3 linked regions of the Homo sapiens genome follow. The protein of the gene in region 1 purifies or fractionates together with the protein of each later gene. This does not show direct contact. Each region holds a gene or a part of one and is shown in the gene's direction. Other genes may lie near its edges. The genes, in order: DNAJC18, TMEM33 and KLC1.

Region 1 (3,070 bases):
GTGACTGTAGCCTACACTCCATGCTTCCTTCATATTGGAAGAAAAGTTTCTGGTAGAGAGTCGGCCGGGTGCACTGGCTCAAGCCTGTAATCCCAGCACTTTGGGAGGCTGTGGCAGGTGGATCACCTGAGGTCAGGAGTTCAAGACCAGCCTGGCCAACACAGTGAAACCCCATCTCTACTAATAATACAAAAATTAGCCAGGTGTGGTGGCACATGCCTGTAGTCCCAGCTACTCGGGAGGCTGAGGCATGAGAATCGCTGCAACTTGCAAGGTGGAGGTTACAGTGAGCTGAAATCACGCCACTGCACTCCACTCCATCTCAAAAAAAAAAAGAGTCTACATTAAACAGATTCCAAAGTAAAGTTTCTTCATCCCAATGCATGGCCATGATTTACACAGACGTGCCTAGCATGGCTCATCAACATCTGAACGGTTGTTCCCTACCATGCCTCTGCAGGCATTCCACAGAGTCAGGAGATGGGTTCACAGGTAAAGATTGGGGGCTTTAGTGGCTTGTAGGGGACAACTGCTCAGTTGCAGGGAGAGGGAGCATTTCTAGAAATAGCCAGATTTTGCTGCCCAACTAGATCTGTCCTCCTGGTTTTAGGGGGCCCTTCTTGATCCCCTCTGAGTGACTGAGGGAGGTTACATTGTAAAATATGTCCATGAGCCAAACAGGCTTATGGAAAGTTCTTCTACACACAAAAAAATCAAAGCTCTCCTCTCCCCATCCCCAACCACTGCTAGAAAATTGGCCATAATGAAACTGACTTGACAGGTTAAAAGACCCTGTCCTAGATGCCCAGGAATCAGGTAGTCACACATTTTATGGACTTCATGGCAGCGATAAGTAATCTGTGATGATACTAAATAGAAGCAATAATAACTAACTCCATTAAATGTCACGCTGATTGTCTGTTTTTATAGCACCGATGGTACTGTTTTATTTATTGCCAATAGACCACAACATTCACATCTGTTTTTCCTCAAGGGAACCGTATTTGCTTTTGGTTGAAGGATTTATCTATTTGATACTATCCAGAATATTGTGAAGCTATAATTTCCTGGGTTATATTTTAGATGGGTTGTCTGCATGGTGGTAAAATAAGCTTTTTCCTCTCGCCTACGTCCTTTGGAAGATCTCCTGATCATACATAACTAGGTAGGGCTTATTCTTGCTGCCGGAGCTTGGCACCCAGCTCTAGACTGTTTCTTTGAGCATTACTGCAGATTGGAGACGTGTGTGAGAGGAGCAGCGCTCAGAAATAGGGCTTGAGGCTCAAGCAGAAACTGAAGCTCTCATTCAAATGAAGATGCTCTCTCTACCGCACGATCGGCAGTGAGAAAAGGAGGATGAAAATCCTTCTCATCACAAAGAGCTTGAAGGAACCCACGTCCCCAGATTAGCAACCCTAGAGTTCATCTGCTCAGGCCGGGAAATGTGTAAGCTTCCTTGATCAGCTCCAGGCCTCACAGCACGGGAGCAGTGACCAGTAAGGAAACGTCACTGCTGTGCTTTCTGTTGGAAATTGTTCGAAAATACAGTGAACTGGCCAGGCCCAGTAGCTCATGCCTGTAATCCCAGCACTTTGAAAGGCTGAGGCAGGCAGATCATTTGAGGTCAGGAGTTCCAGACCAGCCTGGCCAACATGGTGAAACCCTGTCTGTACTAAAAATACAAAAATTAGGCGGGCATGGTAGCACGTGTCTGTAATCCCAGCTCCTCAGGAGGCTGAGGCAGAAGAATCTCTTGAGCCTGGGAGGCAGAGGTTGCAGTAAGCTGAGATCACATCATTGCACTCCAGCCTGGGTGACAGAGCAAGACTCTGTCTCAAAAAAAAAAAAAGAAAGAAAAAAGAAAATACAGTGAACTCCAGATGCCACTGGAACATGGGTTCCAGCAGCCTGGCCAAGCTATGTGTCATTCTTTTTCCTCATGATACCCAGGATGGGCTTTGTGAGGAGGCACTGTGCCGTTCCAGTGGCTTTCTGTTACAGCTGGCCACACCATACAAGCAAGTACATCATCTGCATGCACTGCTCCTCACAGGAGCTTGCACTTCATTCATATTTATTCTGCCCTCATTTAAGGTATAAGCTTAGTGTCCTAATATATTTATTTTTGGAAAGGGCCAAGTTACAAAACATCTTTTTTTTGAGGCTGCACTGTTGATATGTCATGCAGTGGCCACCAAGAAAGTATATACTCGTGTTAGATACTGATTACATCATTTACATCACGCTCAGTATTTGGAATTAAAGATGTGAATGTTCTGTGACCAGAGTAGGGATGACACAAATGGAATCAGCTCCTGGTGGACTAAGAATCTTGAAAAAATCTGGCCACCTCATCCACTACATCTGGATTGAGTGTACTGCAACAAAGAAAAACATTAAACAATTTTATATTAAAAGAATGGCTACTTTTCCTTGGTTCTTTTACCTTTGCCCATGGCATCCTTGGCCACTGCACATCGCCTGACTCCCTTGGAGCCACTTCCGACTAAAGAAGCTTTTGACGCCTGCTCCAGTCTTCCCTCACCCGTCAGTGGGATTATTTGCATTTAGAATAGTAGATAGCATTGTTGGCATCAGTTCCACATTTTCTATCAGATAACAGCAGCTGCAGTACCTCACAGCCAATATACAGATCAAAACTACACTTAGCATCAGAAATTCAGGTGTTATCCCAGTTCCTTGCTGGCTTTGGTCCTAGTGGCCCATATTTAGGAAAGTTTTGGTTTAAAAATATAGTAAATGATATTTACATGATCCTAACTGGTCATGATAGCTTTCATTTGAAAAAGAAAGTGAGATGAGATTCAATTCAGCAATGATTGAGAACTTACTCTGAGCCAGGTGGGCTGGGTTTTTGGAATGGGGGTCAGGGAACAGGTGAGGCCCAGCACCAAGACTCCTGGAGCTCACATCTAATGGGGAGGCCAGGCTTTCCACAGCACTCCCCAGTGCAATGAATAGCTAAAGGGAGACCAAGGTGACCACAGACTGTATAACAAAGGGATTTAACCCAGTCTGAGGGGTCAGTGAAAGCAACTCTGAGGAAGAA
Region 2 (3,658 bases), on another chromosome or scaffold:
AATACATGAATAAAGAAAGCCATCCTTTTAAAAGTATGAACATTAAAATAGTATTGACCTCTGCATTGAAATTTTTGCATTACATTTTAAAACAATACACCTTGCTACCCAGATGATTGCTTTATCAATTTTTAGTTTTACAAGTAATGAGACATTACAGATAAAAGCTAAAATAGCATTTGACTATATGAATTCTTGCTGCAATTTTGTCCTCTTCCCAAAGGTGTAAGGAGTTTAATATGTGTCTATGTATGTAGTCCTTTAAAAATACTTATACAAATTTGTAGAACATATATATTATGGATGTGGAGTTTTGTTTGTTAATTTGTTTAGTTCTTATTTTACATCAAAGATGTTATTCTGGCTGGGCACAGTGGCTCATGCCTGTAATCCCAGCATTTTGGGAGGCCAAAGTGGGCAGATCACTTGAGGTCAGGAGTTCAAGACCAGCCTGACCAACATAGTGAAACCCTGTCTCTGTTAAAAATACAAAAATTAGCCAGGCATGGTGGTGCACACCTGTAATCCCAGCTACTCGGGAGGCTGAGACAGGAGAATTGTTTGAATCTGGGAGGTGGAAGTTGCAGTGAGCCCATATCACGTCACTGCACTGCAGCCTGGGCAACAGAGTGAGACTCTGTCTCACCAAAAAAAAAAAAAAAAAAGAAAAGGAAAAAAAAAAGTGTTATTCTGTACCTTTTTCCCACTTGTATGTTTTCATAACCTAATTGATTTGGCATATCCAGTTCTGTTTTTTTTTTTTTTTTAGCCGTATAACATTCCAACTTATCTCCTGATCATGGAATATGTTTCCAAATTTTCAGTTTTCCAAATATTGATGCAGTAAATATTTTTTACCTGCTTATACTTAATGCCAGTGTTTTCTTTAACATAGATACCAGAATTGATTTTGCTAGTACAAGCTAGGTGCCTTTTGTGTTTAATGGACCATGCTAAATTGTTCTTTAAAATGTCTGTATTACCTGTTTTTCATAATTTTGTTAGTTTGTAACAAATGTCCTTATTGATCATATAGTTATATTTTATAATTTTAAATGTACCTTGCCTTGATTAACTAGTAAAGTTTTCATGTACTTGACAGTTACTTCTTTCTATAGCAGTCTCTTCAAACTAAGAACAGAGTTTTATAGATTTCCTTATAAATATATATCTGTTTCATTCTTTTAAGTAGTGCTTTCTTCTGAGAACTCCAGGACTGGCTGGTGTTGCTTAAGTTGTATGGTCCCAACTAGATTTGATGCAGTTGTATTTGTAAATTAACTCTAAAACCTTGACCCTAAAATTTAATAAAAGCATCCTCTTATCCTAGAAGCTGAAAGCATATAAAAGAAAAGGGTAATGTAATCTGGGACAGCAGAAAAAGGGACAACATCAACATTCTAATATTTTTTCCATCATTTATAGGTTTTTCTTTCCACCTCTTTCTTTTGTGATCCTGATCTACACTTAGAAACTTTAATTATTAATTAGTAAGAGGAACTTTTTGCTCCCTTTTGTTATTCATTTTTCTCGGGTTTTTGTGTCACTTAATCCTGCTTTTGGGTCAGGATCACAGGTTCTGTGATTTGTTTCATGTAACTAGATGAAAGTTAAAATGGTAGATACCAGGCCGAGCACGGTGGCTCACAGCCTGTAAACCCAGCACTTTGGGAAGCCAAAGCTGGCAGAGCATGAGGTCAAGAGATCGAGACCATCCTGGCCAATGTGGTGAAACCCCGTCTCTACTAAAAATACAAAAATTAGCTGGGCCTGGTGGTGTGTGCCTGTAGTCCCAGCTACTCGGGAGGCTGAGGCAGGAGAATCGCTTGAACCCTGGAGGCAGAGGTTGCAGTGAGCCGAGATCGTGCCACTGCGCTCCAGCCTGGCGACAGACCAAGACTCCCTCTCAAAAAAAAAAAAAAAGATAGATACCGAGACTAGTTTTTTTGTATGGGTATAATTGATGTCTATATCCTGAAACCTCCAGATTCTGTTTAGTAAGCAAAATAATTTCTTATGCTCCTCTTAAATCAGATTAAAATAATTTTAATGAAATTCTGAGATGCCATGCAAACTTAGACAAAAACTTCACTTTGGAACTATAGTGAATTTTTTGTTAGGAGCACCAGGTTTTGACTGCGTTGGTACATTAATTCAATTGTGCTCCTTAAATGTTTAATTTAAACATTTATTTGTACAAACTTACCATCTTAATTTTTAAGATTACTGTAAAAAAGATGAGAATTTACCAGAAATGTTTAAATAGAGAAATAATTTTGTTTGAAAAATTAAAATCAGCTTATAAAGTGGTACTTAATTCCTATTAGGAAAAGCTGTTAATGCCTTAAGTAGGTAGTTTGAATATGACCTAAACAATAAAATTAAGAACAGTCTTACATTACTGCTATTCTTAATATGCTACCCTTTCTGGTATACACACAGTCTAATATTAGGAGGCTTTATCAAGTTACATTTGTGCCAGTAATGCTTCAAGCTCTGTATTTAAAAATTGATGCATTGTCTGAGTTTATCTTACACATGCGTTGCACATGTGTGCAAAGACAGGTAAAAGGATCATTGTGGCTTTTCTTCTAATTGACTGGAGCCACCCAAATATTCATTAGTACGGAGTTTGTTACATAATAGTCCAAGCATTAGATGGTATATTTGAAGCTGTAAAAAAGATTGCGGTAATTTATGTGTTGTGATATGGGATAATCACCAAGATATAATAAGTTAAACTTAGTTGTGTAGGGTGTTCTCCATTTATATTTAGTGGGGTGTATGTGTGTAAGGACATAGACGTTTCTGTCTCAGTTTTTTGGGAATGATAAACCATCTCTGTCCTAGAGTTGTTAAACAGATTTAGTGAATTATAAAGTGAGCACTATCAATGTTAGTCATTATATACACTTGTATATATACATTTCTGGAAGGACATATTCGAGATTGTGGTATAAGTTTGAGGAAGGGGCTAACTTGGATGATGGGAAACTTGTTTTTTAAGTGAATATTTTCTATTTATATTTTCTATGTTGTGTCTCTTACATTTTCACTTTAAAAAGATAAAAATTTGTCAAATTATTAGGGAAAATGGATGTTGCATTTGTTTAGTGGTAAGTTCGTAATCGTGTAAATTTTTTTTAATGAAAATGATACAATTTAGAAGAAAAGGCTAAAAAACCTAATAAAACACATTTGGCATCTTAATATATTTCTTCCAATTTAAAAAAATACAATTGTAATAATATGTGTAGTTTTATATTCTGCTTTTTTCAGAGTTGCTATGTAATTTTCATAACCAAGATTCTAGGTAGTTGCATATTAAATCCATTAAATAACCATAATATAAGTTGTTCAATTCTACTTCCTTACAGTTCACATTAGGTTGTTGCCACATTTTGTTTGTAGTTATTTCAGTGAATGTCTTAATTCAGATAGTTTTTCTTAGGGAAGAATTCCAGACCTGGTATTTCATAAACATATATATAATTCTTGGGATATTGTAATTGTGTTTTTTAACCAAGAACAATAATTAGTATAGGCTGTTTAGATTTACTGATGAGCCAGTGTAATTTTTTTGGTGGAGGGGAGTGTTTGTTTCTTTTTATATATATAAAATAAGTCACTTTTCATTTGCATATTTTATGAAGCTTTA
Region 3 (3,658 bases), on another chromosome or scaffold:
GGCTGAGCCACTGTGCCCGGCGCTGTTTTTTGTGTTTTTAAAAATTTTTCGGTTTTAGGTTTTGAGAAATAACCACTGTGATGTGTTTTTAACTGACTATTAGCTGAAAACAACTCATTTAATTAGAGAATAGCCCACAAAACAAAGCCAGATTGGCCCATACAAATCAGTGTTTAAGACTCAATTACAGGCTGGGTGCAGTGGCTCATGCTTGTAATCCCAGCACTTTGGGAGGCCAAGGTGGGAGGATCACTTGAGCCTAGGAAGTTTAAGACCAGCCTGGGTAACATAGTGAGACCTCGTCTCTAAAGAAAAAAAAAAGAAAAGAAGGTCCAGTTATGAGGCGTGTGCATTTAGAAAGGTGCAGTCCTGAGTCTGATGCTGTCCAAGCCTGATATGGCCTAGAAGTGACTCTGATTGAAGAAGACATGTCTGAGGACTAGAGATGGAAAGCCTGGGAGCATTGCATTTGACAGTGGAACATGTGCTTGTCAATAAGAAAAACATGATTAAAGATAAATTCACCAAATATGCTTTATGAAGCTGAAAAATGAAATAATTATTATTATAACTAAAGATTAACTCAGAGCTATAGATTAAGTCAATGTCATATATATTTAATACCAGCTGCTACAGTTCATGGTAATTAGGTATTAAAAAATATAACAACTTGTTCATTTCAGCAGTGCTGTGTATGACAATCTCTTTAGATGTTATGAAGATTCGGGTATTGGGTCTATCCGATGAGTGACCACAAATTGTGTTTTTTTTTTTCTGAAACGGAGTCTTGCTGTGTCGCCCAGGCTGGAGTGCAGTGGCACGATCTCGGCTCACTGCAGCCTTCGCCTCCTGGATTCCAGGAATTCTCTTGCCTCAGCCTCCTGGGTAGCTGGGATTACAGGCATGTGCCACAACACCCGGCTAATTTTTGTATTTTTTAGTAGAGATGGGGTTTCACCATGTTGGCCAGGCTGGCCAAGAACTCCTGACCTTAGGTGATCCATCTGCCTTAGCCTCCCACAGTGCTAGGATTACAGGCATGAGCCACTGCACCCAGCCGCACAAATGGTATTTTAACCTGGTATTTTTTGTGATTATTTATCAGTGATTCTTATCAGTTAATTTTGAGCCACATGGCAAGGAATTGGGGGAGAGAAAATAAAAAGGGGCTCCTTATCAAATTATACAGGTAATATTTTATCATGCTGTCAATCTGCATGATATTTCTGAAATAGAATGGTTGAATTTGGGGTGGGCTGGAGTTAAAGTCAGGGAGAGCACAAAAGTATCAAATTAAGGATTAGGAACCATATAAGATGACCTGCCAAATTCATTCATATATTTACCCTTTCATTCATTTAGAGCCCCCTGCTTAGAGTTGGTGATTTACAGATCAGACATGTAGTTCCTCCCACTAGGACACAGTCCACTGGACAGACTGAGGACCGCAGAGGGCACATCAGCATCTAGAATAGAGAGCTCTGGGAGGATATGAAGTGTGGGCTTCTGCGGGCCAGAGCCAGGGGGTGTTGGGGATGGTTTCTCAGGGAAGGTCGGTGTTGGAACTGCATCTTGAATAATTGAGTTAAAAGTGTCCTAGGCAGGGGGAGGTAGGGAATGCAGAAGGGAGTAGAAAGGCAGCTTACCTCCCTGAGGACCACATGTGTAAAGGCACAAAGCGGAGAGAACTCATCACTTGTTCAAGGTACTGAGGGAGGAGGTTAGTGTTCATTCATCTATCTCTGTGCCAGACCCCTTTTTCGATGCGGAGATTACATTGGTGAAGAAGAGAGACAAAGAATTTATACTCTTGGGGCTTACATTGTAATAAAAAATATTCAAGGTAGTTTAGAGAAGTGATTCTTATAAAGAACAACCAGGTGATGTGCCTGTGAGTTCACTAGGTGAGGTGGGGTGGTATAGGGAAGTCTCCTTTGAGGGGAACTGAGGAGAACCCTGAAGGATAAGTCGTAGCTAGTAGGGAGGGCTAGGAGAAGAGCATCCTGGGCAACTGGGACAGCTGTGGGCTCTTCAGAAGCTGGCAGTAAAACTCACATAGCCTTTACAAAGCCCATTTCCTTATCTTCAAAATGTGCCTAATGTGTACATTTGTACATAGTACAACCAATGTACAAAAATATAACTACCATGAAGGATTACTACAGTAATTAACACAGCTAAAGAAGATGAGCACAGTTCCCTCCCTCCCCTCATGAATAAGAATTTGAGAAATTCTGGTTATTTTATTACTACGTGGTGTAGCGAGCCAGTTAAGGATTTAAATCTGAAAGTGTAGCACAGTCGTGCTTATGTTGAGGAAGATCCTGATGTGACAGTAGGGTGGAGAATGGATTGGATGGAAGCAGAACAAGTGTCTCTAATATGCTGTTTTTTATTTTCAGGTTTTGGGGAAGGATCACCCCGATGTTGCCAAGCAGTTAAATAACTTGGCCTTACTGTGCCAGAACCAGGGCAAGTATGAAGAAGTAGAATATTATTATCAAAGAGCCCTCGAGATCTACCAGACAAAACTGGGACCTGATGACCCCAACGTGGCTAAGACGAAAAATAACCTGGTGTGTTGACTGCACAGCACTAGGGAGGGGGCCAGGAGTGCTTTCGTCCCAAGTCCAAACACTTTCTCATTTAACTGGAGATTAAAATGTATGCTTTATTTACATCTGAAAGATATGAAATATTTTATTTTATTTTATTTTAAGGCATCCTGCTATTTGAAACAAGGAAAGTTCAAGCAAGCAGAAACACTGTACAAAGAGATTCTCACTCGTGCACATGAAAGGGAGTTTGGTTCTGTAGATGGTAAGAAATATACTCCCGTTTCAAGTGAATTTAATTGTATAATGACTTGACTAATAGTAATATACTAATAGTATTAGTTACTGTTTATTAAGCACTTAACTTTGTACATCACTAAGCTAAATAGTTTAAATGTGTGATTTCACTTCACTTTCACAGCAGTCTTGTGCAGCGGGTCAAACATTACCCCATTTTAAAAGCAAGGATACCACAGGCCGGGCGTGGTGGCTCACGCCTGTAATTCCAGCACTTTGGGAGGCCGAGGTGGGTGGATCACGAGGTCAGGCGATCGAGACCATCCTGGCTAACACAGTGAAACCCCGTCTCTACTAAAAATACAAAAACTTAGCCGGGTGTGATGGCGGCCGCCTGTAGTCCCAGCTACTCGGGAGGCTAAGGCAGGAGAATGGCGTGAACCCGGGAGGCGGATCTTGCAGTGAGCCGAGATCGTGCCACTGCACTCCAGCCTGGGCAACAGAGTGAGACTCTGTCTCAAAAAAAAAAAAAGACACCACAGACTAAGTGACTTGTGTGAGGCCCCGTAGCTGAGAAGCAGTTAGACTGGGATTACAGTGCCCAGAGCCCATAACATGTCCTCATTGCAGAGACCTATACAGTTCACGCAGAAATGGAGACAGGAGCATCACCCAAATCCATCTTCATGTCCTCATTGCAGAGACCTACCCAATTCATGCAGAAATGGAAACAGGAGAATCACCCAAATTCATCTTTTCACATTTTTAATGTCTTTCCTTCCTTCTGTGCCTTTGGTTTACAGATTTCAAACCATACCGTCCATATCATCATGTATACTGCTTATTTTCTTTACATTTTTAGTGTG

The links.
Region 2: the proteins of DNAJC18 (region 1) and TMEM33 purify together in Homo sapiens (affinity purification with mass spectrometry, with the first as the bait; one large-scale study listed by BioGRID). This does not show direct contact.
Region 3: the proteins of DNAJC18 (region 1) and KLC1 purify together in Homo sapiens (affinity purification with mass spectrometry, with the first as the bait; one large-scale study listed by BioGRID). This does not show direct contact.

Annotation. Positions count from the first base shown.
Region 1 is NC_000005.10:139,409,553-139,412,622, reverse strand, and holds the end of DNAJC18 (dnaJ homolog subfamily C member 18), read left to right. Parts: 3' UTR 1-2,420; downstream 2,421-3,070.
Region 2 is NC_000004.12:41,945,327-41,948,984, forward strand, and holds part of TMEM33 (transmembrane protein 33), read left to right. Parts: intron 1-3,658. UniProt on the Homo sapiens protein: Acts as a regulator of the tubular endoplasmic reticulum (ER) network by modulating intracellular calcium homeostasis. Mechanistically, stimulates PKD2 calcium-dependent activity. Suppresses the RTN3/4-induced formation of the ER tubules.
Region 3 is NC_000014.9:103,670,612-103,674,269, forward strand, and holds part of KLC1 (kinesin light chain 1), read left to right. Parts: intron 1-2,402; coding exon 2,403-2,576; intron 2,577-2,720; coding exon 2,721-2,820; intron 2,821-3,658. UniProt on the Homo sapiens protein: Kinesin is a microtubule-associated force-producing protein that may play a role in organelle transport. The light chain may function in coupling of cargo to the heavy chain or in the modulation of its ATPase activity.